3 linked regions of the Homo sapiens genome follow. The protein of the gene in region 2 interacts with the protein of the main gene of each other region in a biochemical or structural test. Each region holds a gene or a part of one and is shown on either strand. Other genes may lie near its edges.

What was found.
Region 1: the proteins of MCM6 (region 2) and MCMBP form a complex in vitro, tested with the Homo sapiens proteins (2 studies listed by BioGRID).
Region 3: the proteins of MCM6 (region 2) and CHEK1 form a complex in vitro, tested with the Homo sapiens proteins (2 studies listed by BioGRID, with this or other methods).

What each region holds. Positions count from the first base shown.
Region 1 is NC_000010.11:119,870,912-119,874,662, reverse strand, and holds the start of MCMBP (mini-chromosome maintenance complex-binding protein), read left to right. Parts: upstream 1-1,819; 5' UTR 1,820-2,078; coding exon 2,079-2,136; intron 2,137-3,751. UniProt on the Homo sapiens protein: Associated component of the MCM complex that acts as a regulator of DNA replication.
Region 2 is NC_000002.12:135,841,737-135,845,487, reverse strand, and holds part of MCM6 (DNA replication licensing factor MCM6), read left to right. Parts: intron 1-803; coding exon 804-943; intron 944-3,751. UniProt on the Homo sapiens protein: Acts as a component of the MCM2-7 complex (MCM complex) which is the replicative helicase essential for 'once per cell cycle' DNA replication initiation and elongation in eukaryotic cells.
Region 3 is NC_000011.10:125,635,112-125,638,862, reverse strand, and holds part of CHEK1 (serine/threonine-protein kinase Chk1), read right to left. Parts: intron 3,435-3,751; coding exon 3,330-3,434; intron 1,415-3,329; coding exon 1,319-1,414; intron 1-1,318. UniProt on the Homo sapiens protein: Serine/threonine-protein kinase which is required for checkpoint-mediated cell cycle arrest and activation of DNA repair in response to the presence of DNA damage or unreplicated DNA.

The sequences.
Region 1 (3,751 bases), on a different chromosome or scaffold from region 2:
TGGCATGATCTTGGCTCACTGCAACCTCCGCCTCCCGGGTTCAAGTGATTCTCCTGCCTCAGCCTCCAGAGTAGCTGGGACTACAGGCGTGCGCCACCAGGCCCAGCTAATTTTTGTATTTTTAGTAGAGATGGGGATTCACCATGTTGGCCAGGATGGTCTCCATTTCTTGACCTCATGATCCGCCCGCCTTGGCCTCCCAGAGTATTGGGATTACAGGAGTGAGGCTCCACGCTGGGCCTCAACTAATGATATTTTCAATTTACAATGGGTTTATTGGGATGTAACTCCATCCTAAGTAGAGTAAGTAGAGGAGCATCTGTACAAAACAAGCTCCCTACCCTTCCACTATGTACCTAAGAGCAGGACATACATTTTCAAAGGTGTCCCACCTCCTCTTTCTACCAGGGACAAAAGTTAGTCACCAGAGACAACTTTAGACCCTTATCAGCCAGCGATGGCGCTAGAAGAACCTACATAACACACTTTACTCACTACCTGTAACTACCATTAGTTTCTCGTATCTCTGCCTTCCCACTCTGCTGTTTTTGGAAACTTCAAACTGCTTTCGCCATTTCTCCCCAGTTATTGTTCTTTATTGTAAATGCTACGTAATTCCCCCATTCTAAGCCACCTGTTTGAGTTACTCTTCCTTGAGTTTTGCCCATATAAGATGTACATGTTACTAAATTTTTCTTTTGCCAATCCGAGCTTTGTGATAAGGGCCGCAGTGGAGAACCTAGAAAGGTAGAAAGATTTTCCCCCCTTCCTACAGCCCCAAGGAGGGTTTGAGACACGGGTTCCGTTTTTTTCCTTCAGCTCCTCACTTTGTAGATTCCATTCAGGTCATTCCCCTTCCGTCACCATGCCCTTTTTTCATTGAGTAGATATATCTGATGGGCCTGGGGTTTTCTTAGGTACATTTCAGGCCCAGGGGAGACACAGTTTCATTCTTTTTTTCTTTTTTATCGGACAGCCTCCTGAACCAGAAGAGGTTCAGAGCGACTCCCACAGTTTCACTCTTGAACTTGGGTATTTTCCAAATTGCCTCAGCAAAAGGCTGCTGTAGTCGGTCTTCGTAGCTTCCTTCTCCAGGGTATCCTAGCGGCGCGCAGTGCAGGAGCCTCGCACCGCTCCCCGACGGCGGCTGCCAGCTTCCAGACAGACGCCGACCCGGTGTTCGCAACCAGGGCGCAGGCCGGGCCCGGAGCGTTTAGAGCGCCCGCCCCTCGGTAAGGAACCGTCCCTGAGCCACAGGGCCTGACGCGACTGCAGAAGGAGCGTGGGGTCCTCCGAGGTTCCCCTTCTCTAAATGTGCACCTTCCTCAGGGAGACCTTGTGCAGCTGAGGGAAAAGTCACCACTCAGGGTTTCGGGCCGGGGACCCAAATAAAAGTGCTGCCATCAGCAAAAAAAGAAAAAAAAGGCACGAAGAGGAGGTGGGCGGATTCCCAAGGCGGTTTCGCCCACTAATTTTGCCCAGAGATGACTCTGAGGTCTCTGAGCTTAATGCTTTTCAGCTGTTGTGCAGACTCGCTTTGCCCTCTTATAAGCCCACTATGGGAGTTCCCGCTACACGCCGGCCCAGGGGTACAAACGACAACGCGCCGCCCTTGGAGCGCGTCGCCGGGCCCCGCGCTGCGCAGCCTCCAGCGGCGCTGCGTGCCCTTCCTTTTGCCCGTCTCCAAGATGGCGGCGCCGCCGCCGCCCCTCCTCCTCGCCGCGCAGAGCCGCGCTGCGCCGCGCGCTCCCGCCGCCCCTCCCCACGCGAGCTCCACCCAGGTCGCAGGCAGCGCGGTCGGCGGCGGCTATTTCCCGCCATTGTGCGAAGTGAAGGCTAGGGGCCCGTACGCGCCCGCCTGACTGTCGCCAGCAGCTCCTCGGCGGCCCCACCGCAGCCGCCGCTCCCTGAGGCGCGGGAGGCCCGCGCCCCGCGGCTCGCTGTGCGTGGGAGGGCGCGAGCGAACGCGGGCGAGGAGCGGCCGAGCCGCTGAAGAGGAGCTGGGCGCCGGCCGCCCGGCCGCGCTCGGCCCGCGGATCGCCTCCGCCCGGTCTTCGCCGGCCCCGGCCCCTGGCGAGATGCCGTGTGGGGAGGATTGGCTCAGCCACCCGCTGGGAATCGTGCAGGGATTCTTCGGTGAGTGGCGGCGCCGGGGGGCGGGCCGGGCGGGCAGCCGAGTTTGCCGGGCCCCGGGGCAGGGCCCCGCCGCGCGGCCCCCACGCGGTACCATCTCGAGGGCTCGCGTGGCCCGAGACGGGGCCCCGGGGCCTGCACCGGCCCCAGCTGGGACAGCCTCTCCCCCGGTCGCAGCAGGCAGGGGCAGGAGCCGGGCCGCAGGTACCTCCCACCTGCCCGAGTCGCAGCTTGGGAGCCGCCAAGGTGAAGTCGTGGGGCGCGGGCTGTGATTCGCGGGCTGTGATTGACGGCCTCGCTCCCAGCCTGTGGCAGGGCCAGGGCCCCGGCCCCGGGCGCAGCAAACTCGGAGGTCCTCGAACCCTGGGGAGGGCCCGCAGAGCCGCGGGGAGGGAAAACCACTTTGCCTGTGGGAAGCCCACAGGATATTTCAAAACTTCCGGTGCGTCGGGGAGTGCTCGCTTGCACAGAAGTTGGTTCTAACTCCTGTGCTACCCTCATTCTCTCTTTCAGAGATAAGATTTAATGTTCATAGCTTAGTTTTCCTGTTGGGATGACTTTAGAACCCATCTAGTCTGGATCTGCTCCTGTGCCAGAGCCAGCAAGAAATATTGAGCTACTTGAGTTTGTACACAGGGCTGAGAATCCTGCAGGCGAGCTTAGTAAATTTTGGTTGCGATTGCTGTTGCTACTTTACTGCGAAGGGTATACGAAGAAAAGTTTATATTTGTTGTCGTTAACTGGGCATTTTGACAACCGTTCCATTCCCCAGTGTCTTTTTACACGTAATGAGTGGCGGAGTCAGATCCAGCTAGAAATCACTGTAGATGGCAACACCTGACTTGTCTGGAGTTAACTTAGAGTTGTAGAGCGGCCTTAGCTCATTGAAAAAAACATCTTGGGGTACTAGAGAGAAAAGGCAGTGGGAAGCTAAATCATCCTCAGCAGCCAAAATCGACGGCAAACAATGTATGGTATTTCTTATAGGAGGGCCTCTAGTGCTTACTCAGGAAGTCCTTATTAATTTACCTGTAATTCTAATTAGTTTAGTTACCTGGCTTCCCAGGCTGTAACTAATGGCATTATATTAGAAAAAAGCCTGGATAGACGTCCGAACTTAGCCAGTGAACACTGACAGCCTGATGAAGAAATTTAAAACTACCTTCATACTTGAAAAAAAAAAAAATTCACTATATAGCAGTCAAGGGTGCTTTGAGGAAGGGGCATATATTTCTCCACTAAATCCTAGTAATTTATGTTCATAAGAATTCTAGAAATGATAATCGATGGTCAACACAATGGCCCCAAAATGTCAAGTGAAGATTCAATTGTAGCATTGGTTTAAGAGGGTGCAGATGCATAGATACTTTTTAGGAAAAATCCCTCCAAAGTAAAAAGGTTTGGTGCTTAAAGGGTTAAATTTCAGTTACTAATATTAGAAAGTTTATTTATTAGAAATACCCCATACTCTGATTTTGCTGGATAAATGAGATGATTTCATATTTGATAGAGATTTGAATGTATTTGTGTCAAATTTTGTCTTCTAAATGTATGATCCTAAGGGACACATCTCATCATAGTACAGGAAGGATGTAACTTAGATATAAAATAATAGCTT
Region 2 (3,751 bases):
TAGGAGAGAAGGCAACAAAGTGGCCACTAGGACGCCTCAGCTTTTGTCCTCATTCGCGTCTCACACAAAATGATTTGGGAACTCAAGGTGTTCTTGATTCATGTTATATGTCATTATTCTCTTTCTCCCTCATACAAGTAAGTTTTAAACACAGCAGAAGTTGAGTTTTATGATAGTTATGTTATCCAGGTCCAAACATTTCCTATGTGTTGAGGGTTCTTACCAGGACTTTCTAAAAGTCTGGTAGACCTTGGACTTGTTAAAAGCAGCAGGCAGTTCACTTAGTAAGATGAACCTTGCTAAAATAAACAGGTAATTTTTTATTTTGAGTGAATACTCATGAATTTTACTTCTTAGTAAACTCCAGTTCCATAAAGCCTTCCCCTTTCTACAGAGGAAAAGTTGTTATATTTCAGAATTTTTGCTTGCTGTTGCTTCATTCCTAATTTATGCTTTTAGTTTCTGTTGGCAAGCATTCTCAGAGGTGGTGAAGCATAAGAAGATGAAGAAAAGACCTTCATACTTTGAAATCTTAATAGCTTTAAGAAACATATTTCTTATAATCTATTTTATTAGGTTTCTCTCCTTATGGATAAAATAAGGCATGCTTTAATACAAGTGATATGACTTGTTATTTCAGGCTTATGCTAGAACATTGCGGACCTTACGTCACCAGATGTACTTTCGGACGGCTTGACATTTATCTAATCTGTACATTATCTCGTTGTATATGTGGCAGAGATTTACCCAAGGACTGACAGTACGAGTTGCTAGGATAATTTGAATGTGTTTTTTTGTTGCAGAAGAGGACGAGTCAGCATTAAAGAGGAGCGAGCTTGTTAACTGGTACTTGAAGGAAATCGAATCAGAGATAGACTCTGAAGAAGAACTTATAAATAAAAAAAGAATCATAGAGAAAGTTATTCATCGACTCACACACTATGTAGGTGCAGAAGTGCGCGTGCTCTGGTATCAGGGAGGGAGGGAGTTCATGCCCTGTATCTGCAGGTTCACTAGTGAAATTTTTTTTGACCTTTGTTTGTTTTGAATCATTGGAGTGTAGTCAGAAGTATGAGTTGTAAAATAAGAGAGAATGAACAGCAGGTAAATGACTTATTTCCTCTGCTGAAACAAGCAGAATTTAGGTTAAATCTCAGAAGGTGGGATTGAAGTCTTACTAGTTAGGTGTTTTAAGCTTCTGTTTCCCATCCTCATATTTGCCCTTGGTCGTACTGCTGTCACCTACTTTCTATGTTTCATTTTCCTCACATTCTTAGTTCCCACCTTACCCAACCCAATAGTCAATCTTCCATCTTACTTGCTTGGCGAAACCCCAAACTTGGTTAAATATAACTTTTTTTTTTTTTTGTATCCTTATCTAAGCAGCTGAAAGTATCTGGAGAAAAGCATATAATTATGAGCCCAGTCTTATTTAAATCGATGACCAGAAATCTCAAGTGGACAGTTCTTACTGTCTCATCAACCTCATGACAGCACTGCCCAGTGCAATTCCTTTTCCCGGGTCAGTTCTTTGCCTCACTCTCTCACAGGCCCATCACATACCTTCTCTCCACTCCTGTCAGCTGGCCATTCTCAGTACTCAGCCTGTCCACAGCTTTGTCACAGTTGATCACTCCTACAAATAGTGTCTTCCTCACTTGGTTCTGAGTCACTGTATCCTCCTGGGGCTTCTTTCTCACTGGTTATTCCCTCTTAGTCTCTTTCCCTGAATGGTTTTGTTTTTTTTTTTTTTTTTTGAGACAGAGTTTCGCTCTTGTTGCCCATGCTGGAGTGCAGTGGCATAGCTCACTGCAGCTTCCACCTCCTGGGTTCAAGCGATTCTCCTGTCTCAGCCTCCCAAGTAGGATTACAGGCGCCGGCCACCACGCCCGGCTAATTTTTTAATTTTTTTTTTTTAGTAGAGATGGGGTTTTGCCATGTTGGCCAGGCTGATCTAGAACTCCTAACCTCAGGCGATACGCTCACTTTGGCCTCCCAAACTGCTGGGATTACAGGCGTGAGCCACCGTGCCTGGCCTGAATCTTTCTCTTCTTACTTTACTCTCAGATAGTTTACATTCATTACCTAAGTGATCTCATTTGGTTTTATGAATTTATCCATCTACTGATGACTTCCACATTTATGTCACCAGCTCTCACCACTCCTGTAAACTCCAGATGTATAGAGCTGGTTGCCTACTGATGAGCGTTTAACAGGCATCTCGTGCTTAATGTGTTCAAAAACAGAGTTGTTCTTCCCTGTTTGCAGTTGAGTTGTTCTTACTCAATTGCTATAGGCCAAATGCCTTGGAATTGTCTTTGACTCCTTGATTCCACTCTCCCCTCACAGCTCCTCTTCAGCAGCAAATCCTCTGACCCCCAGCTTCAGTGTGTGTATATTTTCTTTTCTCTTTTTACCGCCTTCACCAGCCCACCCAAGCCACCAGGCATGGACTGTTGCAGAAGCCTCATAAAATTGTCCTTTTTTTGTATTGGCTTCTTGCTCAGCAGCCAGATAAGTCTTTTTAAAATATAAATCAGATTATTTTACTACCCTCCCTTCCAGTGCTTCTCTCACATTAGAAGGAAATTCAGCCTCCTTGTCATGGCCTGCAGAACTATTATACAGTGTAACCCCTGTCCCCTCATTCACCTAATTTCACAGCAGTCTTCCCCATACCCATTTCACCCCAGTGACACTGGCCTTGATCCCTAGGCACACCAAATATGAGGGCCTTTGCACTCACCCTTTGTCCATTTCCCTAGATATCCTCCTCCTCTCCAATGTCTGCTCAAATGTTACCTCTTCAAAGAAACCTTTCTTGCTAGCCTGCCAAAATAGTAGCCTTCTGCTCTTGCTGTCACCCTGCCTTGTATTTCTTCGTAATGTTTAACATGGCCCAGCAGTATATTCTTTATTTAAGTGGTTAGTTTGTCTCTCTTATGGAATATAAGCTCTGTGAGGGTAGAGACTTTGCCCCGGAGCTACAGTGGTACCTGGCACATAGCAGGATCAAATATATGTTGAATGGTTAAATTTTCCTATTATGTGGCAGAGATTTAACTGTCGTGCCAATTCACAGGGCTCACTATATAAATATTACAGAGGTCATGTATTGGGGTTGTGTCTTCTCAAAAACCGTTTTCCTGTGAAGGTAGATCAGTCTGTGATTATTGAGGGGTAGGGAGGTGTAAGAACAGCTACTCAGATCAGGGTCCAGAGTTGCTTTTCTAGTGGTGGGACATGTCTGTGTGCTCCTTGGGATCAGTGTAAAGTAAAACGACCCAGGCAAGGAATCTGCTTCAGGACTTTGGAACACACTGTGAAGCTAACTGATCTAAACTTGAATTACCTATTTATTTATTTATTTATTTATTTATCTTTTGAGAGAGTCTTGCTCTGTTGCCCAGACTGGAGTGCAGTAGCATGATCTCAGCTCGCCGCAACTTCCGCCTTCTGGGTTTAAATGATTCTCTTATCTCAGCCTCCAGAGTAGCTGGGATTACAGGTGCCCGCCACCACTCCCAGCTAATTTTTGTATTTTTAGTAGAGATGGTGTTTCACCATGTTGGCCAGGCTGGTCTCAAACTCCTGACCTCAGGTGATCCACCCACCTCAGCCTCCCAAAGTGCTGGGATTACAGGCATGAGCTACTGCGCTCAGCCTGGATTACCTTTTAAAATTTGGCTTACCACCTGAACTAATTTGCTACAGAAAACTAGAGAGCTTATACTGTGCTGATGAGATATGA
Region 3 (3,751 bases), on a different chromosome or scaffold from region 2:
TGAAGTCAGGATATCAGGAGGATGATCCAAATAAATATTTAAATCACCAAGAATCATGACGAAAATAACATCAAGAGTCATTTTGCAGACTGTGATAGTACGGCAGAAATTTTAATTTGGGGTTCAAAAGTTAGAGGGGAGAGACATAAAGGAAGATGGGAGAAAGTGACAATGAAGAATAAGGAGGACACCTGTACCATGTCCAGATCAAAGGACATGAGGGTATGGGAAAGAAAACACCTACCGCTTCAGAGGAAGCAGTGTCCTCAGGGGAGAATTGGACTTTAAGTTAGGACAAGGAGGAAGAAACATGCAGAGAGGTATTAAAGAAGAGTGAATGTTTAAACATTAACTCTTTTCTATCCATGAGGACAGAGTTAAACATTAATAACTCTCTGAATGTTTTTCATTCATCATCTCTAGTCATTGTCCTCTCTCCTTCCATTCACAGCCTAACAGTCCTATCAATACTAGTTCTTAAATTTCTTTGGAATCATCTCATTTCTCCAATACCATTGCCCTAACCTATTCCAAGCCACCAGCCTCCCACTTCTAGACAACTAGCAGAAAAACCTACAGCACCCTGAATCTTTCCCTATTCATAAAAAACAATGGAAAAAAAATAAGGAAGTCAGAGAAATATTTTTAAACCGAAGATATGACTATGTCATAGTCTTGCTTAAAATCTCTCAGAGGTCTCCCCAGTGGTCTTAAGTTAAAGCCCAAAATCCTTAACATGGCTTACAAGGTCTTCTTCCACAAATTGGCCACTAGCGACCTCTCTGGCCTCATCTCAAACCTGTCTTCCTCTCCCACTTCCCTGTTCACTCACTCAACAAATATTTAATGAGTGCCTATGGTGCACCATATACTGTGCTAAAGCACTGATGATACAATGATGAACACAACAGACACGGCTTGTGCCATACTGATCTTTCAAGTTTCTCAAAAGCATCAGACTTTCTAAAATCTAAGATTTTTCAAATACTGCTTCCCCTGTTCAGAATCAAATCTGCCACTTACTTTGCCTGCCTAGCTTCCCTTTAATCTTCAAATCTTAGATTTAATGTAATTTCTTCAGGAAGAAAAGTCTTCCCTGTCCCTTAGACTTGGTCAAACACTTAGCTATAGTACCCTGACTTTCCCCTTTATAATTATTAATAAACAAAATTATTTCTGTATTTTTTTCTACTGGACATTATAATCTCCATGAGGACAGAGATCATAGCTATCATGTGTTGTTGACTTGTGATAATAACTTTGCAATTACCTTTTCTTCCACAGAAAAACAAACAAACTTGTAGTTTAAGGATATTACCTTTCTTGAGGGGTTTGTTGTACCATCTATCTTTTTTGATGTCTGGAATGGTAATTCTTGCTGATGGATTCTCAACTAAGATTTTATGCAGCAGAGCTAAAAACAAACATTACGACAACATTCACGAAAGAATCATGTTAGAGAAGCCTATGGCTTGAGGTAAGAAACACATTTTCTGTTAGCCTACTTATGTCTAAATATTATTCCTGGGGAAGAGAAAGAATTAAAGCTACTAAATTACTGCTTTAATTTCATGCAGTTTTTCTCTGCTGCTGTATCTTGGAGTAGTCTTCCCTGATCTGATTCTCAATTGTTTGCAACTGAGAACAAGAGCCAGATGGAAATGTTTCTCCTCATGTGACGAGATTAACAAAAAGATACAGAAACCCCTCTTATCCATTTTCAATACCGAATTTCATTACTTCAATGTCATGTTCTCACGTGACCTCCTTATTCACACAGTTTTATAATGAACATTTACTTACCAATAACTTTTTAAGAGACAGTAATCTAACTAACCATCCTAAGGTATCTTAATTTTCTTGAGAAAAAATTCACGTATCTTCCTATGTGAAGATTATTTCCTAATGGACCAAAGATTTAAATGGAAAAATGAAGCCATAAAAACACTAAATGAAAACATAGGGAACTTTTAAATAGTAGAGGTAGAAGACCTTTCCAAAGAAATTATAGTCAGGGACCACAAAGGACAAGATAATAGATTTGAATGTCAATATAGCAAAACAAAATGAAAATAAATGATAAATTGTGAAAAGTATTTGTAACAAGTGCAAAGGTCAATGTGTTATCAAGGAAAAAAAAAAGCTTCAAAGTGGTAAGAAAAACAATATCCTTGACAAAAATGAGCAAAATAGACAAAAAACTAATACATACATAAAGGGTATACAACTTCATTAGTATTAAATTTAAAATAAAAATGAAAAACTATTATTTAAAGTTTTTTTCCTTAATGTAAATTGATGAGACTGTGATGAAATGGTTCGAACTTTCGGGAAGCAATTTGACAAAATAAGCCATAATAATAAAAACTACATCCTTGATCCTGCAATTTTGCTTCTGGGGATTTCAATGAACAATTTAAGGGTATGTGTCATGATTAAGTTACACAGATACTTATATCTCTTTTGTATCTGTGAAAATTTAGAAAAATCTCCAACAAAGTGATTAAAAGAGTAAAGTAAGGCATATCCACATGGCAGAATATTATCACAGCCTTTAAACCAACGATGTAGACCTACAATTATAGTCATGGAAGAATGTTCGCTGCGCACTAAAACCAAAAACAGTTACAAAATATTATTAGTGTGATCTCATTTTGTATAAAAACACATATAAATAATATACATATATTCATTTTACATACTTATGGGCCACATTAATGATGTTTCAGTCAGGAATGGACCACACGTATAACAGACAGTCCCATTAGATTATAATACTGTATTTTTACTATACTTTTTCTATACTTAGATACACAAATACCATTATGTTACAATTCCTTACAGTGCTCAGTATAGTAACATGCTGTACAGGTTTGCAGCCTGAGATCAATAGGGTATACCAAATAGCCTAGATTTATAGTAAGCTATACTATCTAGATTTATGTAAATATACTCTATGATGTTCACACAATGATGAAACCACCTAATGAAACATTTGTTAGAGTGCATCCCTATAATTAAGCAACAAACGAGTGTATTTGCAACAAAGTATAGCACATATGAAAACTTTAAGTAAAAAGCCATCTAAGAGCAGATTCAAGTTGCTCTGAATATACACTCCCCAAAATATTTTTAAAAATCTATTGCAGAGTTCTGGGACTAAAGAGTTATTTTTTCCTTAATTTTTTACTTATAGTTACTATTTTATCTACAACGAACATGAATTATTTGTAAGTTTAAAACAAAAAAAAAAGTAAGAAAAAATTCAAATAGCACAAGACTTCATATCCAAGAAATCGGTACTCTTTCACTCAAGATAATTCAGTTACCTAGAGGAGCAGAATCGATTTTTTTCCAAGGGTTGAGGTATGTTTTTTTTTCTTTCCAGTCAGAATACTCCTGACAGCTGTCACTGGGTTGGTCCCATGGCAATTCTAAAAACAAAGCAAGTCCCAGTTTTTTTAAATGTTCTTATTATAAAGATTTCAAGGAAAAATAATAATATAAATCCATGAAAAGTTTCCTTTGAATTAATTCAATATGGTTTTCACACTAAGAATCCCAACTTGGAAACTTTAGAGGCACTTCAAAGATAGATGAATCAGGATAGGCATGGCAGCTCAGGCCTGTAATCACAGCACTTTGGGAGGCTGAGGCAGAAGGACTGCTTGAGCCCAGGAGTTCAAGACCAGCCTGGGCAACATAGTGAGACCCCATCTCTACAAAAAATAAATAAAATTAGCTGGGCGTG